Linked DNA regions of Homo sapiens: regions 1, 3, 4, 5 and 6 are each linked to region 2. The links come from fine-mapping of genetic effects on gene expression. A gene starts in region 2. Each other region holds a variant in brackets. All regions are shown on one strand. Distances are from middle to middle.

Region 1 (4,000 bases), 26 kb after region 2:
ATAGATTAAAATTCAGAAAATACAGCTAACAATGAAGAGCTTATCCCCAGTAATGTTAAATAACAGCACAATACTAAATAAAGATGCAGTAAGGTGATTAAAAGGCAGCAATGCTTTTGGTTGCTTTAGCAGAAATAGGAGAACCAGCGAGACAGCAGTTAGAGTGAAAGTGTATGTAGGGGTTTGCGAGACTGTGCACAGGGATAAGAAGTGAGTACGGCACCTCCTCTCTGATTGTTCAGCTGTAGCTATCTTTTACAATTTGGTGAGACTATTTTTGTGTCAGGCTTTCAGAACCCTGGACCTACAGCCAAAATATGAATAACCAGCATGTTAACTTATCTTAATATTTTAGATACTTCTGACATTGTGCACATTTGGTGTCCAGAAGGAATGAAAACCAGTGACATCAAGGAGTTGAATATTGTTTTGCCTGAATTTGAGAAAACCCACCTAGAGCATCAGTAAGTCTTTTGATGATGTGCTATATTTACCTAATAAATTTCCCCTGAAGCACCATTTTTGCTCATCCTACAGTTTTTGTTATGTACTATTTTCATTGTCATTGTTTTAGATATTTTTACATTTTATTATAATTTTTTCTTTAATTCTTTGAAGAATTCATATGTTTTTATTTGTCCCAAATATGTAGACTTTTAAATTTATATTTTTGTATTAACCTTCTATCTTAAATATGTTGTGGTCAAAGATCATGGTCCAGTGATACCTTTTTTTTTTTTTAAATTTTGAGGCTTTCTTCATGACCTGGTACATGATCTGTGTGGAATTTCTAATCATTAGATCTAGATAGAATCTCTAATTATTGGATCTATGTTCAGTTTTTCTTGGTACTTCTATTCATTTGTGCTGTATATATTTAGAGACTATTAGGAAAATCATGTTTAAAATTGCTCTGTCTTGCAAATTGAACATTTTAGTTGGTCACCCACTCTATTCCTAAACATACTTTGTCTTAAAATTTATTTTACCTGATACTAATATGCATCATAGTTTTCTTTTGCTAGCATTTGGCAGATTTTTTTTTTTTTTGAGATGGAGTCTCTCTCTGTCTCCAGGCTGGAGTAGAGTGGAGAGATCTCGGCTCACTGAAACCTCCACCTCCCGGGTTCAAGCAATTCTCCTGCCTCAGCCTCCCAAGTAGCTGGGACTACAGGCATGTGCCACCCCGCCCAGCTAATTTTTGCATTTTTAGTAGAGACAGGGTTTCACCATGTTGGCCAGGATGGTCTCGATCTCCTGATCTCGTGATCTGCCCACCTCAGCCTCCCAAAGTGCTGGGATTATAGACGTGAGCCACTGCACCCGGCCAGATTTTACATTCTTTTTAATTTCTTTTACTTCCAACCTTTTTGCGACCTTAAATTTTAATTTCCTTATTAGTCTTTTTAAATACAGTGTATCAGTCTTTGAATTTCAACTGTTTAGTCCATTAACATTTATTGTAATATCGATATATCTTGAACAATATGTTGATATATTGTTACTTCTTTAACTTTTTTATTCTACTTTTTGATGTTCTGAATTTTTTTTAACTTAAAAAAGTTGTATTTATAACTCCCCACCTTTAATTCTAAATTAAGGTAGATAGAATTTCCCCTTCTGTTGTGTGTGTCTGTCTCTGTTTTTAAGACAACAACAAAATTCACTTAGGTATTTGATCACTTTTATCTCATATATTTTCTTGCAATATCCTGTAGATAAGTATTTTCTCATATTTAAGCATTTCATCCAACACCTCAGTGTGACTCTTTATGTTGCAAAACTTCTAAACCTTCTGATTATTTTGATTATACCCTTGAATTTGAATGACAGCTTAGCTGGATATAATACTTTAGGTTCTAAATTATTTTCTTAAATACTTTGGAAACTTTGTATTCTTTTACATCAAGTGTTGCTTTTGGAAAATTTGATGTCTATCTAATTCTTATTTCTTTGAATGTGATCTGTTCTTTAGCTCTCTAAACTGTTATTTTTTTTCTTTGATATTCTTAAATTTCACTATATTGAGTCTGACCTTTTCATTCCAAGGTTTTTTAATTTTTTATTTTTTTATTCTATTGCTGCTGAACAAATTTTTTTAATTCTAAGAATTTAAAATATTTTTATCCTGATTTTCTTTTTTGTTCTCTTATCCTTTGCTTCATTCACTGGGAGATTTCCTCAATCTAAGAAATTAGATTTGCTAATTTATTCTTAGAAATATCCATTCTGCCATTTGTCCCATCTGTTGAGTTCTTTATTTAACTTAGCTTTTATATTAATATTTCTGCTTTTTTTTTTTTTTTTTTTTTTGAGATGGAGTCTCACTCTATCACCCAGGCTAGAGTGC[C/T]GTAGCGCGATCTCAGTCCCTGCAACTTCCACCTCCCAGGTTCAAGCGATTCACCTGCCTCAGCCTCCCAAATAGCTGGGATTACAAGCATGCGCCACCACGCCCAGCTAATTTTTTGTATTTTTAGTAGAGATGGGGTTTCACTATGTCGGCCAGTCTGCTCTCAAACTCCTGATCTCAAGTGATCCACCCACTTTGGCCTCCCAAAGTGCTGGGATTTCAGGTGTGAGCCACCGCGCCCAGCTATTTCTGCTGCTTGCTTTGTGTCTTGTATTCATGTTTTATGCTGCTAATATCTTCCTTAGAATATCTGTTGGGCTAATTTCAAATTACTGGATCAGCTATTCTAAAATACCTGCTTCTGGTAAGGTTTCGGATATAATATGTGTTTTCCGTTTGAAATAGTTGGGTTCCTCCAGCATCCTGTTATTCCAGCCTCTGAGCTTATTTTCCCCTGGGCCTGTCAGCTTCTGTCAGACAGTATGTATAGAAGAAGGCCAAACCCCAGTCCCTGTTAGTGCCCGTCAGTGCAGGGGGTGGGGTAAGCCCTAGGATGGGCAGCCTCAGCGACTCATCTCACAAAACAGCCTGTCAGGTCAGCACTTCACTCCTCGCCCTCCAGAGAGGAGCAGCAGGAAGAAAAGATGGACTCTGGGTCATCATTCTCCAGCATGGGGGTTTGGCTGGGGAAGGGTGAGGAAACAGCTGCCCAAAGTCAGTCAGCCTCCCATGTTTTTCTCTAGGCCCCACAAGTCCAACCCCAGTTTCAGTCTTGAGGACACAGGGACAGAGGTCTCAGTTGCTGCAGGGGGCAGGGGAGCGGGGGTGAGCAGGCACACTATTGATGAGATCGGTGATGGGAAGAGGCAGGAGTCAGTTTCCTGCAGCTCTCTATTCCTGCCCTGGCCACAGCGCCACTCCTTACAGCAGTTATTCTCTCTACATGACCTTCCCCTCAGGGTTTTCACAGCTTTCTCCATTTTCTTGGTATTCCCTCTGTAGTTCTGGGTGAGCTTGGGGAAAGGAGCCAGCCTGTCATGCCAACTCATCATTATCATTGTGAGAAGTGCCTGTTTTACTCTTCTTTATATTCCAGAGCCAGTTTCCTGTTAAAACTAGGACAGTTCTGTTAACACACCCAAGACCATCTTGCTTGTGTTATCCTTTACCTATTCACAAATCTCTTATAGGAAGCTTATTATAGACTTCTGATGTTTTAGGGAAAATGGCATTGTCCCCTTCTAAATCATTTCTTATATCAAGAACTTACCACCCAGTGGGTAGTAAGGACACAGGGACAGAGGTCTGAGTTGCTGCAGTGGGTAGTAAGTTCTTGATATAAGAAATGATTTAGAAGAGGCATAGTATTTTTTCTTAGACTTATTGCAGTACAACCTTGTGTTTTTGTCATACCAAATAAGAATTCTGGTGAATCACTGATCTCATTTTGTTTCCTTGACAATATGGTGTTCTCAGCCACGTGAAACACTTCACTCTTTCAAAATTAAGTCAACAACTGTTTAAGGGTCTGTTTGTAATATCCTGTACCTAGCACTCACACCTGAATAGCTTCACTGTCATATCAGTATGAACTGATGATAAGCAGTTTATGTATAAGTAGGGAAGTATGCCATGAAATGCAACATTACA
Region 2 (4,113 bases):
CTGATCGGAATAGTTGCACTCACCGACGCAGCAGCAGAAACACTAGTTTTCCTCCCAGACCACATGGAGGACCAAGGAAGGTCGGATTTAGTGGCCCTTACCAACACATTCTCGAAAAACTGTTAAGGGTCCTAAGCATTCTCCTGTTAGTATTGGGACTTTATCCCTGTCCTATAAAGATGTTATGCCCCAAAAATGAAGTGGAGGGCCATACCCTGAGGGAGGGAAGGGATGTCCAAGGCTGGAAGAGTGACACCTTTTATCTTCACTTACATGAATAGGAAGGATACAATTTCTGAGGCTCCTCATAGCATACCTTCAGGAATAGCTTTTGTTAGGCCTGCTTGTCTGAGGAGGGATCCTAAAATTCCAGAAAAGATAGTCCCCCCCACCAAGATTGTGCCATTGCACTCCAGCCTGGGTGACAGAGCAAGACTCCATCTTGAAAAAAAAAAAAGAAATTAAAATAAAAAATATAAATAGGCCGGGCGCCGTGGCTCACGCCTGTCATCCCAGCACTTTGGGAGGCTGAGGTGGGCAGATCACGAGGTCAGGAGATCGAGACCTTCCTGACTAACACGGTGAAACCCCGTCTCTACTAAAAATACAAAAAAATTAGCCGGGCGTGGTGGCGGGCCCCTGTAGTCCCAGCTACTTCGGAGGTTGAGGCAGGAGAATGGCATGAACCCGGGAGGCAGAGCTTGCAGTGAGCCAAAATCAGGCCACTGCACTCCAGCCTGGTCGACAGAGCAAAACTCCAACTCAAAAAAAAAAAAAAAAAAAAAAAAAGAACTTACTCATGTAACCAAATAGCACCTGCACCCCAATAATTTATGGAAAAATAAAATAAATAAAAAATAAAAGCAATAGCTTTAGTAAGAAAGGGCACTTGCAGCATACCTACCAAATATCATATAAAGTTTAGAAACATACAATAATCAATACATTATTTGGGGCTATATCAAGGTAGAAAACCACAGGAATGATACACATAAAATCAGAAGAGTGGTTATTCTTTGGAGGAGGAGGATACCATTCAGAGGGGTACCCAAGAGTTATATATAAAAATGATCCATATCCCCATGTAGTGCTGGTTACACGGATGTTTGTTTTTATCTTTACATTACACGTTATATTCTTTCATATGCATGAAACGTAATATTTTTGTCGTAGTAAAATATACATAACAAAATTTAGCATTTTAACCGTTTTTAACTTTACAGTATTGTGGCATTAAGTACCTTCACCTTGTGCATCCATCCACCACTATTTCCAGAACGTTTTCATCATCCCAAACTGCTTTTGGTATCATATCCAAGAAATCATACCAAGTCCAATGTTATGAAGTTTTTGCTCTGTTTTCTTCTAAGAGTTTTAATTTTAGCCTTTATAGTTAGGTCTTTGATTCATTTTGCGTTAATTTTTATACGCGGTGTAAGGTAAGGGTTCAATTACATTCTTCTGCATTACACATTTTTAAACACAAACAAAATAAAAGAACAAAAGGAACCCTGTCCATTTACAAATGAAGGTATTGGGATAGCGGTAAAGTAACATGCTAAGCTCAGACAGCTGATAAAGGCAGCAGGGGCTGGAAGCCAAATCCTGTAGGCCTGGAAAGACGACTGCGGCCTCAGCGACAACAGCTGCGAACACGGGTCTCCACCCACCCTCTTACCTGCCCACGACTCAGGGACACTAGCTCCTCCCCTTTCCCCACCCCACAAGGGGCCGTCCCACGTGGCTCCCGGGCTTTCTGGCGCCGGAAAACTGGCGATGCGGGTGGGCGCGAAAGCCCGGAAAACTTTGGCATGTTTTGGACCGTAGGTAACTGGTTGTGCGGCATGGACTCCAGCTCCGTTGCGCTGTAATAACCAGACCCAGTTTTCCCTCACGCTCCAGGCCAGGGAGGAGCCCGGGGGCCGCTCAGGAAGTCCTGCGCACGCGCGCGTGCTCGGCCCGGATTGGCTGTTCGGAGCGGCGAGGGGCTTGGCGGGAGCTTCCAGTCGCTCGAGAGCGGAGAGCGGCACCATGGCCCCGCGGGGGCGGCGGCGGCCGCGGCCTCACAGGTCTGAGGGGTAAGTACTGCCGACCCTCGGGAGCGCGGGGCCGGAGACCAGCTTGAACTGCTTCCTCGCCTGCCGTGGTTTGCGCCTCCCGGCGCTGTTGGTGCTCCACTGTGGAGGTCGCCCGAGTGGCCAATCGCCCGGGTCCCCGGCTTCCTCCTCAGTCTAGTGGGGATAACAGTGATCCCACCTGCACGGGCCTGTCGGGGCCTAACACTGCCTGGCGGGTGGGAGAGACGTCAGCCAGTGTCGTGTCGTTTTGTGGGGAGGGGGAGTGCCGTCCAAAGTAGTGAGTCTCAAAGTGCTAGCTTGAAAGCAAAATATTCAGCAAATACGTATTGCCTGCGGTTTGCCAGACTTTGTTAGTGGAGTTTTATTCTCTGACTGGGAATCAGTTTTCTTATTTTGAAGACCCTGGTGTTTTCTTACTGCAAACCACAGACCGTAAACTGGAGCATAAATCCGGCTGGGGGACCGAGCTGCCGCTTGCGGTTCTCCAGGATGGCTCGAGCGGTTTTTGTTTACCAAAGAAAGCGAGCGTTTGGTCGGTTGCAAAACGCGCTCTAGAATGCTGGTCGCTGATTCGTTGGCGAATGGCCATCCAAGGCCCGGCCTGGATCTGGCGGGAAGGGTCTCGGCTTGCTGCAGACGGTGCACAAAGCCATACGCCAAGACGATCTGAAGAGAACAGGAGTTCCCCCGGGCCTGGGAAGGCTGCCTGGAGGAGGAGGTGCTGGTAGATGCGGGGTTAGGGTGGAAAAGCTGGAGCAGGACACCGCAGGTGGGTGGGGAAACCGAGACCAGACTTCTGTGGCCAGTGGAGGAGAATGAAGACTCCCCCAGTGCAAAAAAGGATTAGAAGAGAATGTCAGCCTTCAATGTCAGCTGAAAAGAGTTTATCTGAAAGGCTAGTGGTTTTTGTTGTCTTTTTTTATTTTTATCTTTTAACATTTTTGGGTTTGAGACTCATGAAATCTGTTCATGCCTCCTCCCAAAACACACTTACGCACATACAACAGAATTTTTTTTTTTTTTTTTTTTTGAGACGGAGTCTCACTCTGTGGCCCAGGCTGGAGTGCAGTGGCGCAATCTCCGCCTCCCAGGTTCAAGCGATTTTCCTGCCTCAGACTCCAGAGGAGCTGGGATTACAGGCGCTCGCCCCCACGTCCAGCTAATTTTTGTATTTTTAGTAAAGACGGGGTTTCACCATGTTGGCCAGGATGGTCTTGATTTCCTCACCTCGTGATCCGCCCTCCTGGGGTTCCCAAAGCGCTGAGATTACAGGCATGAGCCACCGCGCCTGGCCCAGAAATTTTACCTGTGGGTTGTCACAGAGGTTTCTGTCTCTCAGAAGCCCCACCTTGACTCCAGCGTAAGGCAAGGAGGAACCTTGACTTTTTTTCCCCCCCAAGAAAGGACAAGACAGCTCAAAGAGTTTAGGTTAAGAAGTTTATGTGGTCTAGTGTGTAGCTGGGTTTCTGTTACCTGGCTATGTGACCCTTGATAAGTCACTTAAATTTTCTGAATCCCGGAATCATCATCTATAAAATTGCCATAAAACCAATACTTGTCTTACCTGCTTCCTTAGGTTTCATGAATTAAATAAATAAATCGTGAACTTGTTAGAAATGCAGAATCCCAGACCTCACCCCAGAGGGACTGAATCAGACACTCCTGGGGTGGTGCCAAGCAACCTGTTCAACAAGCCCTCTTGAGAATTTTGATGACACTCAAGTCTGGGAACCACCGCTCTGAACAGTTTTCTAACTTTTTTTTTTTAACTGTGATTCACAGTAATGATGTTTTACATCACACTTAGTACACGTGTGCACACATCCACACATAAAACAAAAGGCTTGTGAACATAGTATATCCAGTGCAATGCTTCATTTTATATTTTCCTTTTTTATTGTTTGTTTTTTTAAAAATGCTGGCCTGGCAATCTTAAAAGACATTATAGGACAATTGATGTGATTTGGGTATGGACTGTAGATTAGATTATGGTATCAGTGTTAAATTTCTTGATTTTAGAAATTGTACCATGAAT
Region 3 (4,137 bases), 890 kb before region 2:
TACTATATCAAAACATTCAAGAAGCAAAACTGAAATATGTGATTAGTAATTGATGGACACAAAGAAATTAGGGTTTGTTTAATAGCTTTCTCCATTTCAAGGACACAATGGTGATAAAATTTTTGTGAATGTATCTTTAAGCTATATATATAAAAGTCCCATTTCCACCATTTAGTGTATTCATTTTCTCTTTTCCATTACTTAATTCATTCACTTTCTCTTTCTGCTAAAACAGTCCTGTATTGAAATTTGAATTACACTATTCAGGCTAACAGTGACTCTAAACTCTATTTTCATAGATAACTTTGAAGTGGCAACACAAGAATAAATAGCAATTGAAAGGCAGAGGACTATTTTTGAGATTTATATAACTTACAGCCCAGGGTGTTTTAATATTTGTGACCAATTATTTTCATTAATTCTTACAGCACATCTGTTCACTACGTAAATTTTAAGAGGCTGGAATGAACATTCCGGGCTGAAAGTTGGTCAACAGAGAAACTTCTATGCACCAGACACTACAGAGTGCTTTACATACATTATCTAATAAAACTGGCATAGGCCTATGAAATGGGTGTTATTTCAAAAGCCATTTTCAATTTTGGAAGTTGGGCCCAGAGAGGAAAGGAAATTCGTCCAAGGTCACACAGAGAGTAGATAACAGAAAAGAGATTCAAACCCCTAATAATTCAGAATTTATAGTATAAAATATAATCTCAGACAAAAAAAAAGACATAATTCACAGTTCATACTAGTGTCAAATATGGCTCGATTGTTAATTAACTTGCACAAATCTACTTAGTCTTTATGTTTGCTTTCACTTTTGCTACACTATACACTTACGTTTATCTTTGCCTACCCTTAGGCTGAAGCAACATGCTTCAAAATAATAAATTAGAATTTAAAAAATCAATTTCTACAATTCAAAATTTTCACTAATTGAAATGTGTCAGAATCTCATTTTTTAATAAATTAGCTACCTTCTCCAGGCTTTTAATATCCTAATATAACCATCTCTCAATTTTATGTGCAGATAGGAGTACATTTTTGAAACGTAACTTGGAAGGGCTTTGAAATGCATTTAAAAGTATTTTGTTTTTTAGTAAAATATTTACTTTCCAATTGTGTTTCACCCAAGTGAAAAATAGCTTATATTCCCTGGGTTAGAAAAAGTAATTTAAAATTTATGATCATTATGAGGCCCTATGATCATAAAAGTATATTAACTTAGAATTTACATCATCAAAGTAGTCAAAATCCTAAAACAATGTTTTCTTATTATGAATCAGCACTTTAAATTCTTTCATAGATGGATAAAATAAATTTTATTTTTAATGCTTCTTGTTAGTCTGGATAACTAGATATATTTAAGGGATAAAAGAAAGAATTGACAAATATTGACCCAGTTGTACTGATAAAATTCTATAACATAGACTACTGGAATACATTTAATGTCTAGTTACATCTCCATATGTAAGTCACGTAAGTGCAAAAGGTATAAGATACTATTAAGAACTACATGCAATCAAAATTTTGTAATGTGATTATTTATGCTTTGCTTTAAGATGAACAAAAATAATTCAATATTTCATAAGCAATTTGGCAACTGACATGATGCTTTCTGTTTATCCCTTTTTTGCTTGGAGTAAGAAGAAACAATATCTCTTTGTTTCTTTGCTTTCTGATAAGGTGTTTATCATCTGGGCACAAAGGAAGGTCGTAGATAAACAGCATGGCATCTTGAGATTCAATAAGTATTTAAAAACAGAGGAAGAGCGAAGAGGGGAGAGTAAGGCAGAAGGAGAATGTTCATCACCACCCTCCTGTCATCCTCATACTTTCTTTGGTTTTATCTCTTTCTTTTTCATTACTACAGTCTTAAATTACTCCACAAAATGTTTCTTTTTCTACAAATTGTTGCTATTTTCAAATTCTCCATCCTCTGTAAATCTTATAATAGTAATTATAAATAAGAAGCAAAGGCATAGAAACAGAAAGCTTTGGAAAAAA[T/A]TTATATGAAAAATCCCTCTAACTATAAATTGTCTTACTGGGTGTGGCAATATAATTAATCAGCAATGTAGTAATCATATTTATATAGACAATTATAATTCTGCAACCTCAGATATTTTTCCTTTTGAAATGCTCTTGTTTTGTGTCTTATTTCACAACTTTGTAATGAACTATGAGTTTTATGCCCATGTGTTCGATAACGGTGTCTCTCCAAATTTGGGGAAAAAAGTAGTGGCCACCAGGGAAAATGGCGGAACAGGTTGGCTTGTAATTAAGTGGATACTCACCATGACTGGCCCTGTTCTTTCCAATAGACCGTGAGTCCCCTAGAAGTTACTCATCCACTTTGACTGACATGGGGAGAAGTGCACCAAGGGAAAGAAGAGGAACTCCAGAAAAAGAGGTAGTTAATTTAATAGCATTGGAGTCTTTCACAGCAACACACTTGATACAGCACTTACCAGCCAAAAATTATCCCAAACCAGTAACGAACTCGGACAGGAAATGTGAAAATACTGAGAAACTAGAAACAATTTTCCTTGGGGCCTGAGCATAGCAACTCTGACCCTAGAAGCAGTCCACACCCTGACCCTAGCTGTGGGTCTTCCCTAGTGGTGGCCCAGTTTTGGCCATGAGGCTTCTCCGAGTCTTGACCTGATGCCCATGAACTTAACCATTATGACCTAAAAGTGTCCTGAGTTAGGGCACCTCGTGGAGGCAATAGGTTTCCTCTACAATTTCTTGGCCCGCTGGTCCAGGAGAAAGCCTGATGTCAACTGTGTTGTAAATCAATACAGAGCCTACAGAAATCATTTTTGCTGGCTTCCTTTTATTGGAGAGGATCCCTAAAAAGAGCTTTTAACCAGCCCAGTTCTCGGGATACTGCCCCTGGGAACCACCCACCAACTGAACTCTGTCCAGGGCCCTGAGCCGGGGCTAGAGTTCTTGCTCAAACTGCCTTGGAGCCATGACGGCTGGATGGAAACTAAAAGCTGGACTTGGACTGGTAGCCGCTCCAGAGGATCTTATAGGCGTCTGATGTAGTCCAGAGCCTGTGGGATCCCCAAAGAAGTTAGAAATGGTCCAGGATTCCTAAAGTTCACCAGAGTCATGGGGGAAAAGAATGGAGTGAAGGGATTGTTGGTTGGTGAGGAAGGAAGAGCTGGCCTAGCTAGCTATAGGGTACAGGGTACCTCAGGGAGATCTGTGGCCCCCAGAGTTTGAGGATGGGCACGTGTCACATCACATCACAACTAAAAGACGAGTGGCTGGTGGACAGAGTGTTGAAGGATTCCTGAGCCCTCTAGGGAATGCAAGATGATCACACCTATACTTTTGCCCACTAACCAGCCTCCCAGTGATAATTGAGCTAATATTTTTTGCTAATATGTTAATAAGTGTCTAATGAAGGGAATGATTACTTCTTTTATGACATCTGGTCCTTTTATTATGATTCAGAGGGAGCTGTGTCAATCTCCATAGAACATAGAGCCATTGACCCTCCACATTTATCCTAGGAAGAGCCTTTGTAACAGCCAAAATGATGCCTAGGATGCAAACCTCTGCAGGCATTTTATTCTCTCATTATAACATTAATCTACCTTAGTTCCTAAGATTAAATATGATGGTGAATAAGCCTTCTATTATATTCCTATTATAGCTTAAATATCTAAATGAAGAATGAATGGACTTATTTATAAATTGCTTACAGGATTAACATTACATATGTTTGATGATTCCCTGAGGTTTCCTTTTTCTTTAAGGCACATTAAACTACTTTCTTGTAGAAAATTCAAATTTTAAATTAGTGCTAATTGTTTATCTTCCTTTTCAGAAATTGCCTGCAAAAGCTGTTTATGATTTTAAGGCTCAGACATCTAAGTAAGTAAGATAAATACTCATCATATGATTTAAGGTGGTTTTAAATGTTAGTAATGCTTTAAGAGATAAGCATTGCAGTAGGATCTGTTACAAATGAGGTCTAATTCCCAATGCAGCAATCTACTCTAATTAAATGGTTCCTTCAGAATTACCTTTTATTTTAAGTTTAGTTGAGAATTACTGAGTTTTAAATTACATTAAACATGTTAGGTAGAACACAATGAATTCTAAAGGATAGGAAAAACA
Region 4 (4,137 bases), 33 kb before region 2:
CTGGGTTTATAAAGCAATCTCACATGAGTTGCTGTACCTAACGAGTTTTAGAGGTGTGCCTAGAAGGCAGGCCACGCTGAACAAAAGCTTTCTGAGCTGTAATTGTTAAACAGTGAACCATGGTGTACCTTTCTCGTGGTTTCTGCTTCTAAGACAGAGAACATTTGTACTTCCCTTGTGTCATCTTTTGAATCTTTTCTTTTTAAATTTTAAAATAGGCAAACTGTCAGGTCCATATGGCTTGCCAGCATGGTTTGTACTAGACAGGAAAAAAATCATGCAGTGTATTCTAGCTGAATGGCAAGCCACTCTGGTATTAGATACCCTGGTGTCACAAATTCATCATACTTGGTGGCCTTTCAGAAACTTCTAGTTAGATTCAAACAAAAGAAAGTGAGACTTTAACAAACTTGGACTCTAGGCAAGAAGTTAAGTTTTTATTTTGAGAATAAATTAAATGTAAAGTTTCTGGAAGGCTATATATATATATATATATATATATTTGAGACAGAGTCTCCCTCCGTGGCCCAGGCTGGAGAGCAGTGGCACAATCTCAGCCCACTGCAATCTCCGCCTCCTGGGTTCAAGCGATTCTCCAGCCTCAGCCTCCTGAGTCGCTGGGACTATGGGCACCCGCCACCAAGCCCGGCTAATTTTTGTTTTAGTAGAGATGGGGTTTCACCGTAACGTGGCCAGGCTCGACTGGAACTCCTGACCTCAAGTGATCCACCTGCCTCGGCCTCCCAAAGTGCTGGGATTATAGGTGTAAGCCACCGCGCCCAGCCACTAAAAATATTTAGAATATGTAATACCATGTCATTCATTGAACAGATACTTACCACCGCACTAAAAGAGTAGAACCTCTGTGGTCATCACTAAAAACAACATAGCCTGGTTTTTTACTGAGTCCCATATCTTCAGGATAACCAAGAGAAATACCACATTTCCATGTTGTACAATGACTAGTAAATGCACATTTTTTTTAAGTTACCTATATTTAGGAAATTTAAGATTTCTGGAAACTGGCCTGAAATGCTAAAACTGAAATGTTGGATGTTGTCCATATGTTGTGTAACCCCTGCTGTGGTGATAAAATGTTTGTTTTTTCCATTACCCCTATAGTGTGTAATGCTGTGTCATGGAGCTAAAATCGGATTTTTCCAAGGAGATATCAGGCTGCTCATGGATGACCTCAAGGTGCTTCAACCCACTGTCTTCCCCGTGGTTCCAAGACTGCTGAACCGGATGTTTGACCGAGTAAGTTCCAAGCAGCGAAGTCCCAGGACTGAGCACTGACTTGGACGCAGGGGCTTGGGCTTGAATTGGGCTGTGCCATGTGCCATCTGTATGACCCTGGACAATCCTCCCAATCTTACAGAACTTCAGTTTACTCATCTGTAAAGTTAGAATGCGTTTACCTCTCAGAGTGGCTGATAAGGATTATAAGAGAAAATGCATGAACACACTTTGTAAACCATGGTCACAACACAAGCATAATGTGGGAGGTCATTTTATTTTTACAATAAACACTTTGAGCCTCTGCTTCCTCATGTGTAACACGGACTGTTTACCTCTTCTCTCCTACTGTTTGTCTCCAAAAGTTGCTAATGGGATCACGTAAGAATAGTAACTATGAAATGGTTTTCTTCATTGTAAAGCTCCTTGCATGGACATGTAAAACATTACTTAATTGGCCACACTGAAAGAAGTGACTAAGCCACAGCAGAGCCCAAGAGAACACCAGCCC[C/T]TCTGCGGTGGGTATCATTGCGTGGACCGCACAGCCAGGGCCAGGCGCGAGGGGCATGAGCAATCTCCAGAAAGAGTGTTCACTTACTCTTTATTTTGAGGCAGGACTTTTGTTATCTCTCAGAACGTTCTTATGTTTTTAATGGTTCTTTTTAAAAGGACAACTTTATCAACATATAATACTCTGTATAATTTGCTGATTTAAAGTGTGTAATTCAAAGGTTTTGAGTACTTTCACAGTTCTCCAGCCATCACTACAATCAATTTTAGAACATTTTCATGACCTCCAAGAGAAACCCTTACCTATTCTTTATCAGCTCCCCGACCCCCTCCACCCTTCAGCATCCGCTCATCTGTGTATTTCTCTATTCTGGACTTTTCTGTGGATGGAATCATGCCATATGTGCTCCTTTGTGACTGGCGTCTTTCACAAGCATCCATGTAGCACGTATTAGCACTTCATTCCTTTTAACGGCCAAATAGTATTCCACTGTATGGGTATAACGCATTTTATTTATCCATTCCTTTTTTTTTTTTTTTTTTGAGACAGGGTCTCTCTCTCTGTCATCCAGGCTAGAGTGCAGTGGTGTTATCATGGCTCACTGCAGCCTCCACCTCCAGGGCTCAAGCAGTCCTCCCACCTTAGCCTCCTGAGTAGCTGGGACCGCAGGCATGTGCCACCATGCCCGGCTAATTTCTGTATTTTTTGTAGAGATGGGGTCTTACCATGTTGGCCACACTGGACTCAAACTCCTGAGCTCAGGAGATCTGCCCACCTCAGCCTCCCAAAGTGCTGGGAATACAAGCGTGGGCCACCGCACCTGGCCTACACATTCCTACTCGATGGGCATTTGGGGATGTATGTGTCCATTGCTCCTGGGTGTATACCGAGGTGTGGAATTGCTGTCCTGTGCTGACCATGTGGGGCCGTTAGAGGACCGGCCAGGCTGTCAGAGCAGCTGTGCCATTTTGTGTTCCCCAGCTGTGTGTGAGGGTTCTGATTTCTCCACACTCTTTGACTCTGGCCATCCTAGTAGGTGTGAAAACTTTCTCATGTCTTGCCTCATTAGATTTTCGGACAAGCAAACACCACGCTGAAGCGATGGCTCTTGGACTTTGCCTCCAAGAGGAAAGAAGCAGAGCTTCGCAGCGGCATCATCAGAAACAACAGCCTGTGGGACCGGCTGATCTTCCACAAAGTACAGGTAACACGTGACTCACAGCCACTGCTCCCATGGAAACCGACTTCGCTTTTCAGAGTTCTGGGAGGGCCTTTTTTGTGAGAGGGAGAGATGAAGGTAAGGGAGAGAATAACATGTTTTTGTTAATTCTGGCACACATTTAAAAACTAAGGCAAAGCCATTAAGGAGGCCTCAGTTTCTAAGATCAATAGTATTGCAGCCATCTAGGGGGAAAAGGAGTCAGGGTAGTGGAGCCTTTCTCATTCTCCATTTTGTTGCGTTTTTCCGGAACAAGCGTGTCACTCTTGAGGTAATTTTTCAAGCATGAGTGATAACGTGTAACAATATCATGCCCCCCAGAAGGCCAGAATTGTGGTAGTTGCCACAGATCTGCCCAGTTGTGTTCTAATTCCCTGAAATAGCTTCTGCAGAGGTGGGGCTGACTTCCATCCCCATTGGGAGGGAACAGGGCAGTCACGGGTGGAAACAAACCGTAGCCCTGTGCTGCCATCATGAGGGCTGTGAGTTCTCCGTGTGGCCTCCGTGTGGTCTGCAGCTATGGGTTAGGGAACGGGGTCCCAAGCAGGCCCCCTTGGCGGAGAGGCCGCCGACTTCCAGGTGTGTAACCCTCACCTTCTCCCACTCTCCCTCCCTGAAAGTCGAGCCTGGGCGGAAGAGTCCGGCTGATGGTGACAGGAGCCGCCCCGGTGTCTGCCACTGTGCTGACGTTCCTCAGAGCAGCCCTGGGCTGTCAGGTGAGGTGGATGTCACGGCGCCTGATTCTCCCACACTAGGATGCCCAGTCCTCTTCTGCACCAAAAGTCATCTGTACTGTGTGTGTGTGTGTGTGTTCTTTCTTAATTGACAAGCGTATCTATATTTATGGCGTAACAACATGATGTTTTGATGTATGTAATATGTAAACATTGTGGAATGGCTAAATGAAGCTAATTAACATGTGTCTTACCACCCATACTTTTTTTTCCCACGTGGTGAGAACACTTGGAATCTACCCTCTGGGCAGTTTTCAAGTATATGATACATTGTTGTTAGCTCTAGTCACCACGTGGTGCTATGGAGCTCTTGAACCAGTTCCTCCTGATGGAGACTTTGTGTCCTTTCACCAACATCACCCCTATCCTTCCCACCCCCTACTTTGTGTGTGTGTGTTATGTTTGTTTGGAAGATATGTTATTATTAGGTTGCTTGG
Region 5 (4,137 bases), 70 kb after region 2:
GTCAGAAGTTTGAGACCAGCCTAGCCAACATGGTAAAACCCAGTCTCTACTAAAACCATAAAAATTAGCCAGGCGTGGTGGCAGGTGTCTATAAGTCCCAGCTACTCAGGAGGCCGAGGCAGGAAGATCACCTGAACCCAGGAGGCGGAGATTGCAGTCAGCCAAGATGGTGCCACTGCACTCCAGTCTGGGTGACAGTGTGAGACTCCATCTCAAAAAAAAAAAAAAAAAAAGTCATTAATTCATTTTTTTTAATGGTTTTAATTACCAGAAAGTGTCTAGTTCATATTGAGCCTGACTCCAGCTCTAAGAATACAGCCTCTGAGACTACAAGGCACTGGGCATGAAGGCCATGCACAATAGAAAGGCAGCAAGCACGGGGGCTGGAGTCAGAGACAGGTCAGTGTCAGTTTTGGCTTTGCCATCTGCCAGCTCTATGGCTTTGGTCAAATCTAAACCTTAACATTTCCCAGCTGCTAAACAGGAATAATAATAGCAGCTACCTTTTGGAGTTGCTTTAAGGAATAAAAAAGAAAATGGAAATTTTTAGCACATGTAACTGCTTAAAAAAGCCTTGGTTGTGCAGCCTTAGGACAAGTCCCTAAAGCTTCAATTTTCTCATTTGCAAAATGAAGCTACTAAGAACTACCATGCAATATTATCTTGACATGAGCAAAAATGTTTATGAACTGCCGTCAGTTTAGATACCTCAAAGTTACGCAATAAACTGTATTTTTAATGATATTTTGGGATTCTTCTAACACCACACTGTCCTCATGCCCTCTGGCTTTACTCTTCTGTAAATTCTTTCTCAGAGAGGGCTTCCTTGATTTCCCTCTCTACATCAAATTCCCCCTACATACTCTTTTTCTCTTTATAGACTTACAATTTTAGGTTGATTTATGTGATTAGTTTGACATGTTTCCTCTGTATTACAGGGGCTCTTCCTCCATATTTGTTCTCTCCCTCTGTAGAAGCAGAATCCCAATTTTTTAGCTAGATTGGAGGCCATCCAGAACAAAGACTACATTTCCCAGGCTCCTCTACAGCAGGGTGTGGCTGCTAAGTCTGGCCAATGGGACGTGAGAAGGAAAGTATGCCACTTCTAAGTGATCCTCTAACAGGCAAAGGGCGTACCGTCCCCTTCTCCATTTGTACTGACTAGAATGCAGACACAGTGGTATGAGCCATCTTGGACAATGGAAGAAGGCAACATCTTAGGGACAGCAAAGCAACAAGCCTAGTCCCTAACAGTACGGAGCCACATTAGATATTACTTGGGGGAGAAATAGGTTTCTGTCTTGTTTAAGCCAGTTTAATTTTGGGTCTTTATTATGGCAGCTAAATCTATCCTAACGTATTATCCTCCATTAGACTACAAAGTGTATGCCATCAGACATTATGTCTCTTTGACTTACCACTTGGTAATCCTAGTGCCTGGGCACAGTGCCTGACACTTAGTAGGGACTAAAAACTATTTGATGAATGAAGTCGACTTCTGTACTTTCGGAGCTACAGAGAATAAATTTAGTGATGCTTTAGGTAGGACAAGTAATCATATTCTCCTAAATTCTATTTCCCAAGATTAACTTTAATTAAAACTTTAAGTTACTTAAATAATTAAATTATAAAATCCAGAAGTTAAACTTACATGAGTGGACAATGTTGCCCTGAAATGTGGTCCTAATAAAATACATTAGCACCAGAATTCATTCTAACTGTGGAGAAGGGGCTTATTGAAATGTGTCAGTTTAGCCACTGAACCACAGGGTATTTTACATTATCACCAATTATTATTAACCATCTGCTAAATTAGCATAAGAGCTAACCTAATTATGCCTCCTCACAGTAAGACTCAAAGGAAAAAGTACTTACTGGATTATAAACTTATTGCATACAAAGTAACCAATAAATGAAATTA[AT/T]TTCAATGTAATCATTATAAAAAGCATTATATTAAGTAAAGTAATCCAATGAGAACTGTTCTATCAACATGGTAAACATGTTAAATAAAAATGCTGTATAATTTTGAACTTCGATTTCTACAGTTTCTTCCAACAGTTTTGCTGATGCAGAAGATTAGCTGCTCAAGACTCATTTGGATAAAGTAGTATAAAGAATAAGGAGAAAAAAATTCTAAACACCTACATGGTCTTTGCCATACCAGTGTTTATTAATATGTGTTACAAATGAAATTTGCTCCAGTGTTCATTTCATTAGAAATATTTCTAGTTTCTAATGCAATGTGGTACTTCTTTGCTAATATGCAATGTTAAGTGGCAGTGAAAATCTCTGAATCGAGGTTCCTTGTAGCCCATGGAGAAACTACACAAGAAATCTTACTTTAGACTGTAGAAGAAAGTCAATACTTATGAATTACTAAAAACATAATTAGGCCAGGCACAATGGCTCGCGCCTATAATCCCAGCACTTTGGGAGGCGGAGATGGGTGTATCACTTGAGGCCAGGAGTTCAAGAACAGCCTGGCCAACATGGCAAAACCCTATCTCTACTAAAAATACAAAAATTAGCCAGGTATGGTGGCACACACCTGTAATCCCAGCTACTCGGGAGGCTGAGGCAGGAGAACTGCTTGAACCTGGGAGGCAGAGATTGCAGTGAGCTGAGATCACACCACTGCACTCCAGTCTGGGTGACAGAGCTAGACTCTGTCTCAGAAATAATAATAATAATAATAATAATAATAATAATAATAATAAAGGTTTAAAATTAAACAGAATTTACCAGCTGTAATGAAATAAGCATCTAAATTTATTTTTAAGGGTTCAATGGCTATTTGAAGAAAAATATAATTTGGGGTTTTTTTTGGGGGTGGTGGGGGACTTTATATATATTTCTTCTGCTTCAAAGCCAGGATAAAGCTAACATTCTATATATTTTTTAAATAGCATTCACATACATTTTCACAAAGATTTAAAATCAAGCATGTAGAGGTCCAACAGAGAATACTAGCAGATATTCTTTATCAAAAACATTTTAATCTGGATATATTTTAAAAGTTATAAAATGGGTAATCTATAACATTATTATTCAGTTAACATTTAAAAGAAAAATAGCTAGTCAGTAAGTGTCAGTACCTACACTTAGGCTGAATAATAGTCAATACAATTTTAACACAACTTCCTGTGATACAATCTGAAAATTTTTTTTGAAATAATCCTAATAGAACTTAGCTGCACAAGTCCATGCTATTCCTTTTATTAGTAACTTCCTGGTTGACACAGCTAAATCAAAAATAAAGAACTACAGTATTTTTTCTCTTAGTTAAAAATAGTAACTATATTTTTAGACAAGATTTTACCATTACTAGCTGTAGGACCTTGAATAGGAATTAGTTTCGTCTGGGCCTTAATTTCCTCATTTTGAAAGGGACAAGATAAGATGATTTCCAAAATTCCTGCAAGCTTGAAAATTCTAATACTATTTGTAGTCAGTGTTCTTGAGGTTCATCTCAGTACCCAATTTTTACAGTAAAAATTATTTTGCCTGGTTTTACCAAAGTCAGCTATTCGTAATGGAAGTCAGAGAATTAATATATAATTTTAAAATATAGAAAATTTTCAAACTGACATCTTTTTCAAAGCATTTTTTTTACCAGACAGCAAAATTGCAAACTATATGAACACAAATTGAACTTTCCTTCCTTTTCACAGTTTACTCATACAAGTAATATTAAAAAATCCTAAAGTCAAAAGGAAGAGTAGCAAGAAAAAGAAGAGATACAGAACCTACTATTATGTAGGCTGAATTCACTGAATGAATAAGCCAATGAAGAGATGGATAGAAATAAGAAAAACTTGAGTTGGCCATTTACCTCAATGAGTAATGCAACCATCTTTTTCCCATCAGCTCCTGGGTTGGCAGGTTTGTTAAATTCCAAATCAAAATAAAGCTTGCACACAGCATTTTCAGGAATAACTTCATAGCAGTGTAAGAGATTTTTTCTAAATTGAATAATTCAAGATTGTTAAATTGATATATTATACCTTTATTGATTGATTGATTGACTGACTGAGACTGAGTCAGCTCTGTTGCCCAGGCTGGACTGCAGTGGTGTGATCTCGGTTCACTGCAACCTCCTCCTCCTGGGTTCAAGCGATTCTCCTGCCTCAGCCTCCC
Region 6 (4,000 bases), 31 kb after region 2:
TTGGTGTTCTCACTAATTTTTATTTTAGCCATTGTGATAGGTGTGAAGTGTAGAAATATTTTCTTTTTATTGTGTGTTAACTGTGTGCAACTTGTTAAGCAGCCCATCTCTAGAACTAAAGCCTTAGGAAACGGTAGCTTTGTACCCATTCGAGCAATGACTCCTCATTCCTCCCTCCCCCAGCAATCACCATTCTACTTTGTCTCTATAAATCTAACTGTTCTGGGTACCTCATATGAGTGGAATCATACAATATTTGTCCTTTTGTGACTGTCTTATTTCACTCAGCATAATGTCCTCAAGGCTCACCCATGTCATAGCATGTGTCAGAATTTACTTATTAAGGTGGAATCATATTCAGTCATGTATACACATTCATGTCACTTAACAACGGGGATGTGTTCTGAGAACTGCATCCTTAGGCAGTTTTGTCATTGTGTTAACAGTGTACTTAAACCAACTTAGATGGCATGTACTAGGCTTAGGTGTAAGCCTAGTACATGCCGCGGCTATATGATGTGTTGCCTATTCCTCCCAGGATACACACTTGGACAGCATGTTACTGTATTGAGTACTGTAGATAATTGTAGCATGATGGTAAGTTGTGTATCTAAACATAGAAAAGGTACAGTAAAAATACAGTATAAAAGATAAAAAATGAGCCTGGGCAACATAATGAGACCTGTTTTCTACAAAAAAGTTAAAAATTAGGCGTGGTGGCATATGCCTGTAGTCCCAGCTACACGGGAGGCTGAGGCAGGAGGATCACTGGAGTCAAGGAGTTTGAGGCTGCAGTGAGCCATGATCACACTACTCAGTCCAGCGGGGGTGACAGAGTGAGACCTTATCTCAAAAAAAAAAAAGATGAAGTATGTTACACCTGTTTGGGGCACTTAGTAATTTATTACCTAGTATTATGTAGTATACCTAAGTATGTGTGCTATACTTTTACACAGCTAGGCAACACTATAGGTTTGTTTACACCAGCATCACCACAAGTATGTGCATAATGCATTGTGCTATGACATTATGATGGCAACAGTGTCACTAGGTGATTAGAAATTTTTAGCTCCATTATTGTCTTATGGGTCTACCACTGTATGTGCCATCCATCGTTGACTGAGACATTGTTATGTGGTCATGATTTTAACACATTTCCTTTATCCATTCATCTATCAATGGACACTTGAGTTGTTCCCACCTTTTGGCTATTGTGAATAATGCTGCTACAAACATTGGTGTACAATTGATATTCAAGTCCGTGCTTTCAATTCTTTTGTGTATGTACCTAGAAGAGGAATTGCTGGATCATGTGGTAATTCTGTGTTTAATTAATTTAATTTATTTATTTTTTTGGAACTGCCAATACTGTTTTCCACAGTGACTATATCATTTTACATTTCCACCAGCAACACAAGGGTTCCTATTTCTGTACTTTCTCACCAACACTTGTTGTTTTGTTTTTTTTTAATAATAGCCATCTTAATGGGTGAGTGAGCCAAGCCAGGAGAATCAGAGCCTGGCCACCAGATCTCTTCTCCCCAGTGACAGAGACCTGAGGCAGTTTCTTTGAGTCAGCTTTATAGTTTCTGAAGAACTAACACCTGATTTATGGCTACTTTTTGGCTAGTCCAGATGTGTTACACAGTTGCTCCTCCTTTTGCTAACAGGCAAAGAGGGAGGGAATAAAGTCTGCTGGGTCTATCAGTTAGCAG[A/G]AAAAGATTGGGAGTATCCATAAGCATTTCTACCTTACTTGGTATCACCTGTGAGGTTGGTCAGTATCAGGGAATTAAGATGACCCCGTACCAGAGGGCTTAGGGAATAATATGTTTGTTCTTTTTCTTTTGCTGATACATGTTTCCGGTGTTTTTTTCAGGCTGAACATTGCCATCTTAGTTATTTAAAATGGTGCTCTCATATGTTCATTGCAGCATTATCCATGATAGTAAAGACGGAATCAACCTAAGTGCCCATCAACTGTGGGTTGGATAAAGAAAATATGGTACATATAGACCATGGAATACTACACAGCTATAAAAAAGAACAAAATCATGTCCTTTGCAGCAATATGGATGCAGCTGGAGGTCATTATCCCAAGTGAATTATTGCAGGAACAGAAAGCCAAATACCGCGTGTTCTTACTTATAAGTGGGAGCTAAACACTGGGTGCACATGGACATAAAGATGGCAACAATAGACACTGGGGACTCCTAGAGGGAAGAGAGACAGAGGGATTCAAGGACTGAAAACAACCTGTTTGCTACTATGCTCGCTACCTGAGTGGTGGGGTCAGTTGTACCCCAAACGTCAGTGTCATGCAGTATGCCCATATAACAAACCCCTTAATCTAAAACATTGAGATTATTAAAAATAAGAGATTAAAGATATTTTTAAAATAAAAAAAGGTATATGCCAAATTGTATGTGTATGTTTGTTTGTATGCTAAGCAAATGAAACACCTTTCAAAATCCATCATGGTACTTAGACTTTTTTTTAATTCCTCTACAGACAAAGAATAGAATCTAAAGTTTGTAAGGCAGCCATCGCCACATTTTATGTTAATGTTAAAGAACAATTCATCAAAATGGTAAGCTCACGGACATGCATTTGTTGGTCTAAGGTTTTTTTCACTAATCCTGTAGCAGCATATTGTTGTCTTAGAAAAGCTTGCATTTGCTGGCAGTATGGTAATAAACTCATTAGAACTATTCATATTCCACATAACTGTTTTTAAACTAAATGTGACACATGTGAAACTAATTAACATTTACTTTTGGAAACTGATGTACATGTGTATTTTTTGTTTTGTGTAGCTTAAAGAAAGCCAGATGTTGACAAATCTGAAAAGGAAGAATGCTAAGGTAAATTATTTATGTGATTAGAGTCATAGAGTCAAACACAATACTAATGTAGAGTTATGCGAAGACTTGACTCTGGGTTTACAGCCTTTAGAGTGTGAGTAGATTTCATAATCTTGTCAGGCTTTTATTTGGTTGATCTTGTGGTTGATACGGTTGGTATTATTAATGCAAGGTAAGGAATGGGGATCCTAGTCACTTTTGTTTCCTAAGGCTGCACGAGTGTCAAAATAATTGTTTTTATAATTAAAGACAGAAATTTAAGCCTTTTATTAATGTCACAAAGGTAGCTTTAAAAAAACTACCCAGTCCAAAATGACCACTTACATGGATAAATATTAATATATATTTATTGCTTTTGTGGATGTCGAAAAGCACAACCTTTTAGAATAAAGAACTGTCCCAGGTAGGACAGCCTGGGAAGAATACTGGGTTAAGGGTCAGGAGACCTCATGTCTAGTCCTGGTTCTGCTGCTTCATTGCTATACCACCTATAAGCTGTATACCACTGGGTCTGCAGTGGGTGACAAGCCAGCCAGCATGAGAGTCTCCTTTGCTTACCTGGAAATGGTTGGACCAAATGACCTCTGAGCATCAGAGGTGAATCCAGGAGTGGAAGTCCACCTCTACATTTAAAGTAGAAGTGGACTTGAAATACATACGTTTTCCTTCCAGTGATTGCAAGCTCTGGGATGTTTTTGTTTTTCAGTTTTAATCTCTTATTGGTCATTTCTGCATTGCTTATTACGGAGTGGGAACATTATGAATGTCTAACAATGGAGAATTAGGTAGTCACTAAAAGTGACTGAATGTCCGAGATAATAAAATATGAAATATTTCTTTTAAAATACAGAGTGGATCACAACACTCCCCTGCTTTGATAGTTTCCTAGTATGCCTAGATAAAATCTCCTCACTTTACAGGTCACAGGGTCCAGTAAAGACCTGGCCCCTGCTTTCCTTCCTCTGGTCATTCTGAAGTAGATACCCCTGCTTTTCTTTTCCAGAGTTCTCTCTTCTTTTCCTACATATCACAAGCTGTAAATACATACTGTTTCTATGTAATGTCTGTCTTCCCCATTAGACCAAAGTCTGTGATGGTAAGAACTGGGTCTGTCTTGTTTTCCACTGCACTTCATTACC

Which allele goes with the higher level. Positions count from the first base shown, and alleles are read on the strand shown. Sizes are in standard deviations (SD) of each study's normalised expression. Not every link is listed here.
With allele T in place of AT in region 5, the expression in monocytes after LPS of the gene that starts at base 1,998 in region 2 is higher (moderate effect, 0.65 SD a copy in Fairfax 2014).

Evidence for each region. PIP is the estimated chance that this variant, and not a neighbour inherited with it, causes the effect. A credible set is the group of variants that fine-mapping cannot tell apart.
Region 1: its variant is the best candidate, but not a certain one, in a credible set for the expression of CENPU in thyroid (GTEx, PIP 0.59).
Region 3: its variant is the best candidate, but not a certain one, in a credible set for the expression of CENPU in monocytes after Pam3CSK4 (Quach 2016, PIP 0.75).
Region 4: its variant is the best candidate, but not a certain one, in a credible set for the expression of CENPU in whole blood (INTERVAL, PIP 0.82).
Region 5: its variant is the best candidate, but not a certain one, in a credible set for the expression of CENPU in monocytes after LPS (Fairfax 2014, PIP 0.77).
Region 6: its variant is the best candidate, but not a certain one, in a credible set for the expression of CENPU in whole blood (INTERVAL, PIP 0.67).

The regions. Positions count from the first base shown.
Region 1 is chr4:184,706,536-184,710,535 of GRCh38, reverse strand. It overlaps CENPU (centromere protein U), which reads left to right. Exons shown (of 13, transcript NM_024629.4): 8 at 356-464. Among named protein-coding and RNA genes, the nearest start is that of CENPU, 26 kb to the left of the region's middle. The variant C/T (reference allele first, on the strand shown) is at 2,351.
Region 2 is chr4:184,731,981-184,736,093 of GRCh38, reverse strand. CENPU (centromere protein U) reads left to right here and starts at 1,998. Exons shown (of 13, transcript NM_024629.4): 1 at 1,998-2,078. The coding sequence starts at 2,032. RefSeq lists enhancers at 1-184, 2,422-2,541, 1,692-2,558 and a silencer at 1,992-2,051.
Region 3 is chr4:185,618,339-185,622,475 of GRCh38, reverse strand. SORBS2 (sorbin and SH3 domain containing 2) reads left to right here. Exons shown (of 27, transcript NM_001395207.1): 20 at 2,325-2,413; 21 at 3,845-3,891. Among named protein-coding and RNA genes, the nearest start is that of SORBS2-AS1, 32 kb to the right of the region's middle. The variant T/A (reference allele first, on the strand shown) is at 2,011.
Region 4 is chr4:184,765,436-184,769,572 of GRCh38, reverse strand. It overlaps ACSL1 (acyl-CoA synthetase long chain family member 1), which reads left to right. Exons shown (of 21, transcript NM_001995.5): 12 at 1,123-1,257; 13 at 2,817-2,951; 14 at 3,587-3,682. Among named protein-coding and RNA genes, the nearest start is that of CENPU, 33 kb to the right of the region's middle. The variant C/T (reference allele first, on the strand shown) is at 1,748.
Region 5 is chr4:184,661,599-184,665,735 of GRCh38, reverse strand. PRIMPOL (primase and DNA directed polymerase) reads right to left here. Exons shown (of 14, transcript NM_152683.4): 5 at 3,833-3,962. Among named protein-coding and RNA genes, the nearest start is that of PRIMPOL, 14 kb to the right of the region's middle. The variant AT/T (reference allele first, on the strand shown) is at 1,922.
Region 6 is chr4:184,700,950-184,704,949 of GRCh38, reverse strand. It overlaps CENPU (centromere protein U), which reads left to right. Exons shown (of 13, transcript NM_024629.4): 9 at 2,509-2,587; 10 at 2,814-2,861. Among named protein-coding and RNA genes, the nearest start is that of CENPU, 31 kb to the left of the region's middle. The variant A/G (reference allele first, on the strand shown) is at 1,716.